Regions from separate parts of the Homo sapiens genome. Here region 2 is linked to region 1. The links come from fine-mapping of genetic effects on gene expression. Tissue or cell type: whole blood. Region 1 holds a variant in brackets; the other region holds the start of a gene. All regions are shown on one strand. Distances are between the middles of the regions.

Region 1 (5,205 bases):
TCAGGAGATTGAGACCATCCTGGCTAACACGGTGAAACCCCGACTCTACTAAAAATACAAAAAATTAGCCGGGCGTGGTGGCAGGTGCCTGTAGTCCCAGCTACTCGGGAGGCTGAGGCAGGAGAATGGCGTGAACCCGGGAGGCAGAGCTTGCAGTGAGCCGAGATCTCGCCACTGCTCTCTAACCTGCCGACAGAGCGAGACTCCGTCTCCAAAAAAAAAAAAAAAAAAAAAAAAAAAAGAAAAGAAAATCAAGAAAATCAAGTAAATTTCTTACTGTTGGCAACTAAATAGTGTTTGCAGCATTTTTATCATGCAGTTAATTCCATCCATTCACCATATTTTTCTAATTCAGTTGTCCTACATCTAAGTACATGGTTTGCTTTTTGTTTTTTGGTTGTTTTTTTTTTTTGAGACAGAGTCTCGCTCTGTCGCCCAGGCTGGAGTGCAGTGGCACGATCTCAGCTCACTATAACCTCCGCCTCCCGGGTTCAAGCCATTCTCCTGCCTCAGCCTCCCGAGTAGCTGGGACTACAAGCATGTGCCACCACGCCCGGCTAATTTTCTGTATTTTTAGTAGAGACGGGGTTTCACCATGTTAGCCAGGATGGTCTCCATCTCCTGTCCTCGTGATCCACCTGCCTCAGCCCGTCGAAGTGCTGGGATTACAGGCGTGAGCCACAGCGCCTGGCCAGTACATGGTTTTAATGTTGTCTGTCTTCTGTGCTGTTCCTGTAAGTTTGTTATTAAAATACATTAAACTCAACCGGGCACAATGGCTCACGCCTGTAATCCCAGCACTTTGGGAGGCCGAGGTGGGCAGATAATCTGAGGTCAGGAGTTTGAGACCAGCCTGGCCATGGTGAAATCCCATCTCTACTAAAAATACAAAAATCAGCCAGGCATAGTGGCACATGCCTACAGTCTCAGCTACTTGGGAAGTTGAGGCAGGAGAATCGCTTGAACCCGGGAGGCAGAGATTGCAGTAAGCCGAGATCGCGCCACTGCACACCAGACTGGGCGACAGAGCAAGACTCTGTCTCAAACAAATTAATAAAATAAAAATAAAATAAAATACATTAAACTAATAAATAAAATAATCCAACTTTAATAACAACAATAAAAAATGGGAGGAGACTGTGTTGAAACTAGGTGTTGGATTCATGGAAGTTAAACTATTCTCTATTGTTATTTATGTTTAAATTCCCATAAGAAAATTTTTGAAAAGAAAAAAAAGCTTACATGAGTGAAGAGAGATGAAGCCTGAGATAAACTTCCAAAACTTCTCCCATATCTGGATGGCAAATAAAACTACATCAAATGGTCAGGCGTGATGGTTACCCTCTAATCCCAGCTACTTGGGAGGCTGAGACGGGAGGATACCTTGAGCCCAGGAGTTCAAACTGCAGAGAGCTATGATTGTACCACTGCACTCCAGATGGGGCAACAGAGCAAGACCTCACTCAAAAAATAACTAAAACCAAAAACAAACAACTACATCAAATGTCTAAAGAATGAGAACTCATGCCTGTAATCTCGACACTTTGGGAGGCCAAAGCAGGAGGATCGCTTGAGCTCAGGAGTTCAAGACCAGCCTGGGCAACATAGGAAGACCCTGTCTCTACATAAAATTTAAAAATTAGCTAGGCGTTGGCCAGGTGCAGTGGTTCACGCCTGTAATCCCAGCACTTTGGGAGGCCAAGGAGGGTGAATCACAAAGTCAGGAGTTCAAGACCAGCCTGGCCAAGATGGTGAAACCCCATCTCTATTAAAAATACAAAAATTAGCTGGGCATGGTGGCGGGTGCCTGTAATCCCAGCTACTCAGGAGGCTGAGGCAAAGAATTGCTTGAACCTTGGAGGTGGAGGTTGCAGTGTGCCAAGACCATGGGTGCCACTGTACTCTAGCCTGGGCGACAGAGTGAGACTCTGTCTCAAAAAATAAAAATAAAATACAAAATTAGCTAGGTGCTCACCTGTGGTCCCAGCTACTCAGAAGGCTGACGTGGAAG[G/C]ACTGCTTGAGCCCAAGAGGTTGAGGCTGGAGCAAGCCGTGATGGCACCACTGTACTCTAGCCTAGGCGACAGAGCAAGATCCTGTCTGATTAAAATAAAAAACTGTCTAAAGAATGAAAAAAGAGATGTAGAACGAAGAGCTGCTGCTGTAGAAGGCAAAATCTGCTTATGTGATGAATAAGACATAATCTGAATTAAGCAATAATTAAGACTAAAAAAACAATAGTGTTCATTCACATCAACAGGATATAAAAGGAAGCAATAAGTAAGGCCTGTGGATGGTGAGTACTGAGGGAGTATGTGCCATTTCTATAGCATGTAGCAGATGGAGAATTCATAAAGAAAATGTCAGCATTTCATTTTAGCAAGTCTTTCTACTTCTCCCCACTGAGAGATTTTCTCTAGGTAAAGCACAAAAACTAACAATAACTAATTCCCAGATTTTCTACTCACTAATTATGTAACAGGCAAACTACTACTCTACCTGTTTGAATGTCATATATAAAATGGGGTAACTCTATCTGTCTTGCAAGATATTACAAAAATTAGAAACAAATCACTAACACACTGTGTGATTTGTACATGGCACAGAGTAGGAACTTAATAAATTGGAGTCAATATTGTTATTACTGAGTTTATATGAAAAAAAGTCATCATTAGAGTCAGGAATGATATACGGATGCTCACCATCACCATCTCTATTCATTATTGAATGGGAAGGCTTAGACAAAAGCAGTAAGACATAAAAAACAAAGAAGGTGTAATTAAAAAGAAACAAAACTTTCCTAAATTTAACCAATGTGGCTGTCTAGTACCCAAGAAAATCTAAGTACCAAACATTTAGCATTTAAAAGAATTCAGCTGAAATGAAGATCAATGTACTAAAATTAACAGTGTATCTATATTCTAACAGTAGAGAAAGGAAATACAATAATTAACAAAACTACTTAGGGTATGGGAGGCTGAGGCAGGAGAATCACTTGAACCCAAGAGGTGGAGGTTGCAGTGAGCCAAGATGGTGCCACTGCACTCCAGCCTGGGCAACACAGCAAGACTCCATCTCAAAAAAAAAAAAAAAAAAAAACAAATCTAGGGAAAAGAGATCTTTAATGAAAAACTTATGAAATGTTATTGAAGGGTATAAATAACCCAAACAAATGGAGTCATAGATCATATCTCTGGCTAGAATGACTCAATATTGCAAAGTCAGTTCCCCCATGTCGATCTTTAAATTCAATTCAATTCCAACAAAAATGTCAATGGAGTTTAAATAAGATGAACAAGGAAGGAAAATCTGCCACACTAGGCAAACGCTTTTTTTTTTTTTTTTTTTAGATGGATCATCACTCTGTCACCCAGGTTGGAGTGCAGTGGCATGATCTCGGCTCACTGCAACCTCTGCCTCCTGCACTCAGGCAATTCTCCTGTCTCAGCCTCGTGAGTAGCTGGGACTACAGGTGCGCGCCACCACACCCAGCTAATTTTTGTACTTTTTTGTAGACATGGGGTTTCACCATGTTGGCCAGGCTGGTCTCAAACTCCTAACCTCAAATGATCCACCCACCTCAGCCTCCTAAAGTGCTGGGATTACAGGCGTGAACCATGGCATCCAAGGCATAAGCTTCTTATATAGTAATTAAGACCTGGGAATTGAGCAGATCAATGGGAAAAGAATAGAGATCCTGTACATGACCCAAAACTTGATTATATTAGAAGCATAATTAAATACGGTACCAGATGTGTTGGGGCAATTAGTTATCCACATAGAAAAAAAATCAGAGCCATATTCACACCACACACAAATATAAATTTCTGGTAGATTAAAGACCTACACATGAAAAGTAAATCCTTAAAATGTTCAAAAACAGATATACAAGATTCTTAATGACCTCAGCATAAAGAAGGATTTCTTGAATAAGAATTAGCACAAATCAGAAAAAACATTGAAACTTTTGATGACTTCAAAATTGAAAACTTCTATACAATTTTAAAAATTCATAAACAGTTAAAAAATAAGCTACAGACTGCAAGTTTTTTTGTGAAACATACATATAGGACAAATAACTGGTACTTAGTATATACAAAGAATTACAAACCAAAAAGAAAATGACAAGTAAGTAATTAGAAAACTTGCCAAAGACTAAAAATTAGAAACTCAAATGACTAATAATAAAGATAAATTCATCTTCTCCTAGGAATTAGGAAAATACAAATTAAAACCAAAAATTTCATGCCACACCCAACAGACCACCAAAAACTTTAAAAAATGTCTTACAATTTCCATGTACTGATATATCAATAAATTGTTAATTTTATTGTTGAGTTATACACCATTGAATAGATAAAGCATAATTTATTCATTTATGTGTTGAGGAATATCTGGGTTGTTTCCCATTTATTATTTATTTTTATTTTTTTTAGATATGGGGTCTTGTTATGTTGCTCAAGCTGGCCTCAAACTCTTGGACTCCAGGATCCTCCCACCTCACCCTCCCGAATAGCTAGGAACTATAGGTGTGTGCCACCATACCCAGCTATTTCCAATTTTTAACTATTACAAATAGAGCAGGTATAAAAAATCATATATAAATCTTGACATGAACATATGGATTCATTTCTCTTGCATAAAGACATAGAGGGAAGAATGGGTGTCTCTTGTGGTAAAAATATGTTTTTTTTATTTTTTTATTTTTTTGAGAAAGAGTCTCGCTCTGTCACCCAGGCTGGAGTGCAGTGGTGCAATCTCGGCTTACTGTAACCTCCACCTCTGGGTTCAAGCAATTTTCTGATTCAGCCTTCTGAGTAGCTAGGATTACAAGTGCACGCCACCACACCCAGCTAATTTTTGTATTTTTAGTAGAGACAGGGTTTCACCATGTTGGCCAGGCTGGTCTTGAACTCCTGACCTCTTGAACTCCTGACCTCAGGTGTCTGCCCACCTTGGCCTCCCAAAGTGCTGGGATTACAGGCGTGAGCCACCACGCCTGGTCTAATTTTTTTTTTTAAGTCTGTTTCAAAGTGGTTGTACCATCTTTCTTATCAGTAACATGAGAATTCTAACTGCTCCACAGTCTCATCAACATTTGGTATGGCCAGACTTTTTGTTTGATGGGTTTTTTTTCTTGTTGTTTTTGAGACAGAGTCTGACTCTGTCACGCAGGCTCGAGTGCGGTGGTGCAATCTCAGTTCATGT
Region 2 (5,121 bases), 79 kb after region 1:
TGTGTACTAAAAATACAAAAAAATTAGCCAGGCATGGTGGCAGGCACCTGTAATCCCAGCTACTCAGGGGGCTGAGGCAGGAGAATCGCTTGAACCCAGGAGGTAGAGGTTGCAGTGAGCCGAGATCATGCCACTGCACTCCAGCCTGGGTGACAGAGCGAGACTCCATCTCAAAAAAAAAAAAGAGTGAAATTTGAGTAAAGACCTGAAGGAGATGAGGGGACAGACAGGCTATGCTCTTACACAGCTTTGTAAGAGAAAAGTAACTCAGGAAGAGGAAACAAGAGCATAGACCCTGAGGCAGAAGTGTGCCTAGTGTGCTCAAGGAACAGCCAGAGGCCAGTGTGCATGTTAGGGGAAAAGGGTGCCACAGATCTAGAGCTTTAAAGCTAAGATTGGTTTGGCTGGGCGCGGTGGCTCATGCCTGTAATCCCAGCACTTTGGGAGGCCGAGGTGGGCAGATCACGAGGTCAGGAGATCGAGACCATCCTGGCTAACACAGTGAAACCCGTCTCTACTAAAAATACAAAACATTAGCCGGGTATGGTGGGGGGTGTGGTGGGGGGCGTGGTGGGGGGGCACCTGTAGTCCCAGCTACCCAGGAGGCTGAGGCAGGAGAATGGCATTTACCCAGGAGACAGAGCTTGCAGTGAGCCGAGATTGCACCACTGCGCTCCACCCTGGGTGACATAGCGAGAAAGAACAACAACAACAAAAAGTAACATTGGTTTTTATTTTGAAAGAGAAAGGAAGCCATCTCCTGTCTTAATTTTCCATTAAAAAATATTAGGCATGCTATTATTTTTTTTTTTTTTTTGAGACAGTCTCTCGCTCTGTTGCCTAGGCTGGAGTACAGTGGCACGATCTTGGCTTACTGCAAAATCCGCCTCCTGGGTTCAAATGATTCTCCCACCTCAGCCTGCCAAGAAGCTGAGATTACAGGTGCCTGCCACCACGCCTGGCTACTTTTTGTATTTTTAGTAGAGACGGGGTTCCACCATGTTGGCCAGGCTGGTCTCAAACTCCTGACCTCAGGTGATCCACCTGCCTTCGCCTCCCAAAGTGCTGCGATTACAGCATGAGCCACCGTGCCCGGCCAGTCAGGCATGCTATTTTTATTTGTCAAATTTTTTTAAAACTTTACATTGTGAAGCTCTGCCAAGAGCAATGGCTCACGCCTGTAATCCCAGTGCTTTTGGGAGTCTGAGGCCAGAGGATCACTTGAGGCCAGGAGTTCAAAACCAGCCTGGGCAACATAGCAAGATCCCATCCCTACGAAAAAAAAATTGTGAAGCTCTACTAATCATATAATGGACACAAAGACAAATGGAACTTCAACTCTGAAATTTAACTTGTTAGGAGTTCATCAGGCCTTCAAGAAAAAAGTTATCTTTTCTCTCAACTCTCTGGAGAACAGCAACAGGGTAAGAAAAATACAACTAAAAACTGAACTGAATTAATCTAACCGGCCACTTTTCACCACTATTTAAACTTTTTGTCTTTCCCGGCGCGGTGGCTCAAGCCTACCACTTTGGGAGGCCAAGGCAGGTGGATCACTTGAGCCCAGGAGTTCCAGACCAGCCTGGGCAGCAAGGTGAAACCCGTCTCTACAAAAATCAGCCAGGAGTGGTGGCTCATGCCTGTACTCCCAGCTACTTGGGGGACTGAGGTAGGAGGACGGCTTGAGGCCAGGAGGCAGAGGTTGCATTGAGCCGAAAAGGAACCACTACACTCCATTCTGGGTGACAGACTGAGACCCTGTCTCAAAAAACAAAATACAACCTTTTGTCTTGATACCCCAGCAACAAAAAGGGGGGCGGGGGTGGGGGGGGAATATTGGTGGAACAACAACAAAAAAAAGCATTAGGAAGAAGAGCCACAAATAATTCAACTGCAAATCTATCTAAAAATACAAGAAAATGCTAGGAATTTGTGATATTCCTGAAGTGAAACCTGTCACTTTCCTCCTTCCTTGAGTCTCCACGTGGCTTACGCATATCAGACAGGACTCAGGCTTCTCAATCTTAGTTATCTATTTGAACAACATTATGTACAAGGATATTCATCCAACTGGGATCTGAATTCAAACTTTTCCACTTTTCTTTCTTCCGTTTTAACGCAGTTCTGGGATTGTTATTCGGTCATTTCTCATCATTATCCAATGACAATTCACTCTAAGTCAGTATTCCTGGTAGTTCCGAGACTTAATGGCCACAAATGTTGAAAAATGTTAGCTCTACGGGAAAACGAATCGAAGCGTTTTCAGGGGCTCGAGTAGTTATGAGCTTAGTGTAGGCCCAAGTTTTAAGCTATAGAAACATCTCCCTGTATGTGCCAACTCAAATCCCCGTCCCTGTAAGAAACCTGGACACCAGCATGATTTTAAACACTTCTACACCTCTCCGTCCTATTTTTCCATGCTCCACGCTCGAAGGAAAACCGCCACCCAAGAAACACACGGAGCTAGCCACCCCGAAGCACTGGAAGGGCGCAATAGTTTTTAGGTCACCCCGCAAAGGCCACAGGTGGCGCCACCCCCCTGCCCCCGCACCGCCGCCCTCCGCCCCGCGCCCCCAGCTTCTCTCCAGCAGCGCACACTTGGAGCAGTCCTTCCCGCGGCCATCCGACCCTGACCCATCGTCCCCGGGACCGGCTGCCGGGCGCGAGGAACCCAGGCCGCGGGGCCTCCTCGCGCCCGCCCGTGCGGCCGCCACGCCCCCTCCCCACAGGCCGTCCGGGCCGCCCGCCCCCTCGGCCGGGAGGTGGCCTCACCTCGCACGGGCCTTGGCGGGGAGGGCGCCCACGTCTCCGCCCGCCGCCCGGGCCCACGGCCGCTCGGCTGCGGCTCGGCCCCGACGGCCGGCGGCGGCGCGCTTCTGGGGGCGGGCTTTTCTCGGCCGGGGCTTCCCCGGGGCCGAGGGCTGGGAAGCAGGGGGGACTGGGACGGGGGAGGGGAAAGGGGCTTGGGAAGGAGGGGGGAGAGGGGAAGAAAAGGGGGGAACCAAACCCGGAAAGGGAGAAAAGGGGGGAGGGGAAAATCAGAAGGGGAAGAAAAGCCCAGAGTCCGCCCCCCGCTGCGGCTGCGCGCTACGTCACTACGTCCGGCGTTGTCGTCACCTCGTCCTGCGTTCCGGCCGTCCCTGCTTCCTGGCTTCCCGCGTGCCCCTCAGCAGCCCTGCGGGGCCTACCGCCTGCCGCACGCACTCCCGCCGGCGCGCGCGCACTCGCACTCGCTCGCTCGCCCTCTCCTCCTTCCGCGTTACCTGTGTCAGGACACCAATCCGGAGTCACTGGGAGCCTCGGTCCTCCTTAAACCCTTCAAGTCTGTCAGATAGAATACCCTGGATTTCAATATAATACTAATAGTGATCATTCTAAAGTAATTTCCATTTACAGAGCACTTTCACTTAGGGCAGTAACTCCTGTACCAAAAGAACGTACACTCGGTATTTGTTGCATACGTGGATAACTATAGTTGAGCAGGTAAATGTCCATTTTACGTAAAGATGAAAAAAACCGACCTAGGAGGAACTCAGTCTGTCCTATTAAGATCACATTCTTACCATCATCCCCTCTCTAAGATACAGTTCTCAAAAATCGTCTTAAATGTCCAGCCTCCCCCGTTTTGTCCATTCTAGGCAGAATCAATTTAGTTATTGATTATGTGTGTGTGGATAATTTACTGACCAAACTCCCTCAAAGAAGCAATGTAGTCTTTTGTAGAATTCGACCATTAAATATTTACCTTGTGACAGAAACTGCGGTAGGCAAAAAAAGTCAAATAATTATAGTACAATTTAAGTGCTATAATAGAAAGGTTTAAATGTGCTATGGAAACACAAGGAACAGCAATTCGTTCTTAGCGGTAAAAGAGATTGAGTAAGTTACAGAGAAACTACAGGTGAAACTCCAGCTAATCTTGAGACTATAAATAGTTCACTAGAGAGGTAAGAATGGAGATTCCAGCAAAGTCATAGAGGCATGAAGTTCATCTTTCCTTCAAGGATGAGCAAGTTCCAGGTTGGTTGGCGTTTTTTGTTTGTTTGTTTGTTTGTTTTATTTATTTTGAGATGGGGTCTCGCTTTGTCACCCAGGCAACTAGATTGCAGTGGTGCAATGTCGGTTCACTACAACCTTCACCTCTCAGGTTCAAGTGATTCTCCTGCCTCAGCGTCCGGAGTAGCTGGGACTACAGGCACGCACCATCACACCCGGCTATTTTTTGTATTTTTAGTAGAGACGGGGTTTTGCCATGTTGGCCAGGCTAATCTCGAACTCCTGGCCTCAGGTGATCCACCCGCCTCGGCCTTCCAAAGTTCTGGGATTACAGGTGTGAGCCACCTTGCCCAGCCCTCTCTCCTGGTCATCACTGCCTCCTGCCCCCAAATTCTCTCAACCCTCTAGAGAACAACAACGGGGGAAGAAAAATACAACTGAACTGAACTGATCTAACCTGCCACTTTTCACCACGATTTAAACTTTTTGTCTTGGCCGGGCGCAGTGGCTCACACCTAGCACTTTGGGAGGCCAAGGCAGGTGGATCATTTGAGCTCAGGAGTTCCAGACCAGGCAGTGATGACCAGTAGGAAATAATAGCTAATATTTGTATTATGTGTATGTAAGTACAATATAAAATGTGTAGCATTCTACATCTATTGTTAGTATCAAATCCTCAATACAATAGGTACTATTATTATACCTGTTTTATAGATGAGGAAACCTGAGGCACAATAATGAAACCAAAGTTCCAGATTTTTTTTTATTTTTTTTGAGACGGAGTCTTGCTCTGTCGCCCAGGCTGGAGTGCAGTGGCATGATCTCAGCTCACTGCAACCTCCACCTCCCGGGTTCAAGTGATTCTCCTGCCTCAGCCTCTCAGGTAGCTGGGACTACAGGCATGTGCCACCACGCCCGGCTTATTTTTATTTTATTTATTTTTTTATTTTTCTTTGGTATTTTTAGTACAGATGGGGTATCACCATGCTGGCCAGGCTCGTCTCGAACTCCTGACCTCAAGTGAACTGCCCACTTCAGCCTCCCAAAGTGCTGGAATTACAGACGTGAGCCATCACGCCCAGCCTACAAGCACATTTTTAAGGGCAAAAAAGAAGGAGACAGGGA

What was found. PIP is the estimated chance that this variant, and not a neighbour inherited with it, causes the effect.
Region 2: it holds the start of R3HDM2, and the variant in region 1 is fine-mapped to the expression of R3HDM2 in whole blood (TOPMed, PIP 0.98).

What each region holds. Positions count from the first base shown.
Region 1 is chr12:57,349,167-57,354,371 of GRCh38, forward strand. All of the region lies in intron 2 of R3HDM2 (R3H domain containing 2), which reads right to left. Among named protein-coding and RNA genes, the nearest start is that of R3HDM2, 79 kb to the right of the region's middle. The variant G/C (reference allele first, on the strand shown) is at 2,012.
Region 2 is chr12:57,427,948-57,433,068 of GRCh38, forward strand. R3HDM2 (R3H domain containing 2) reads right to left here and starts at 3,096. Exons shown (of 24, transcript NM_001394031.1): 1 at 2,773-3,096. It overlaps R3HDM2-DT (R3HDM2 divergent transcript), which reads left to right and starts at 3,169. Exons shown (of 2, transcript NR_185976.1): 1 at 3,169-3,483. RefSeq lists an enhancer at 2,238-2,347 and a silencer at 2,528-2,997.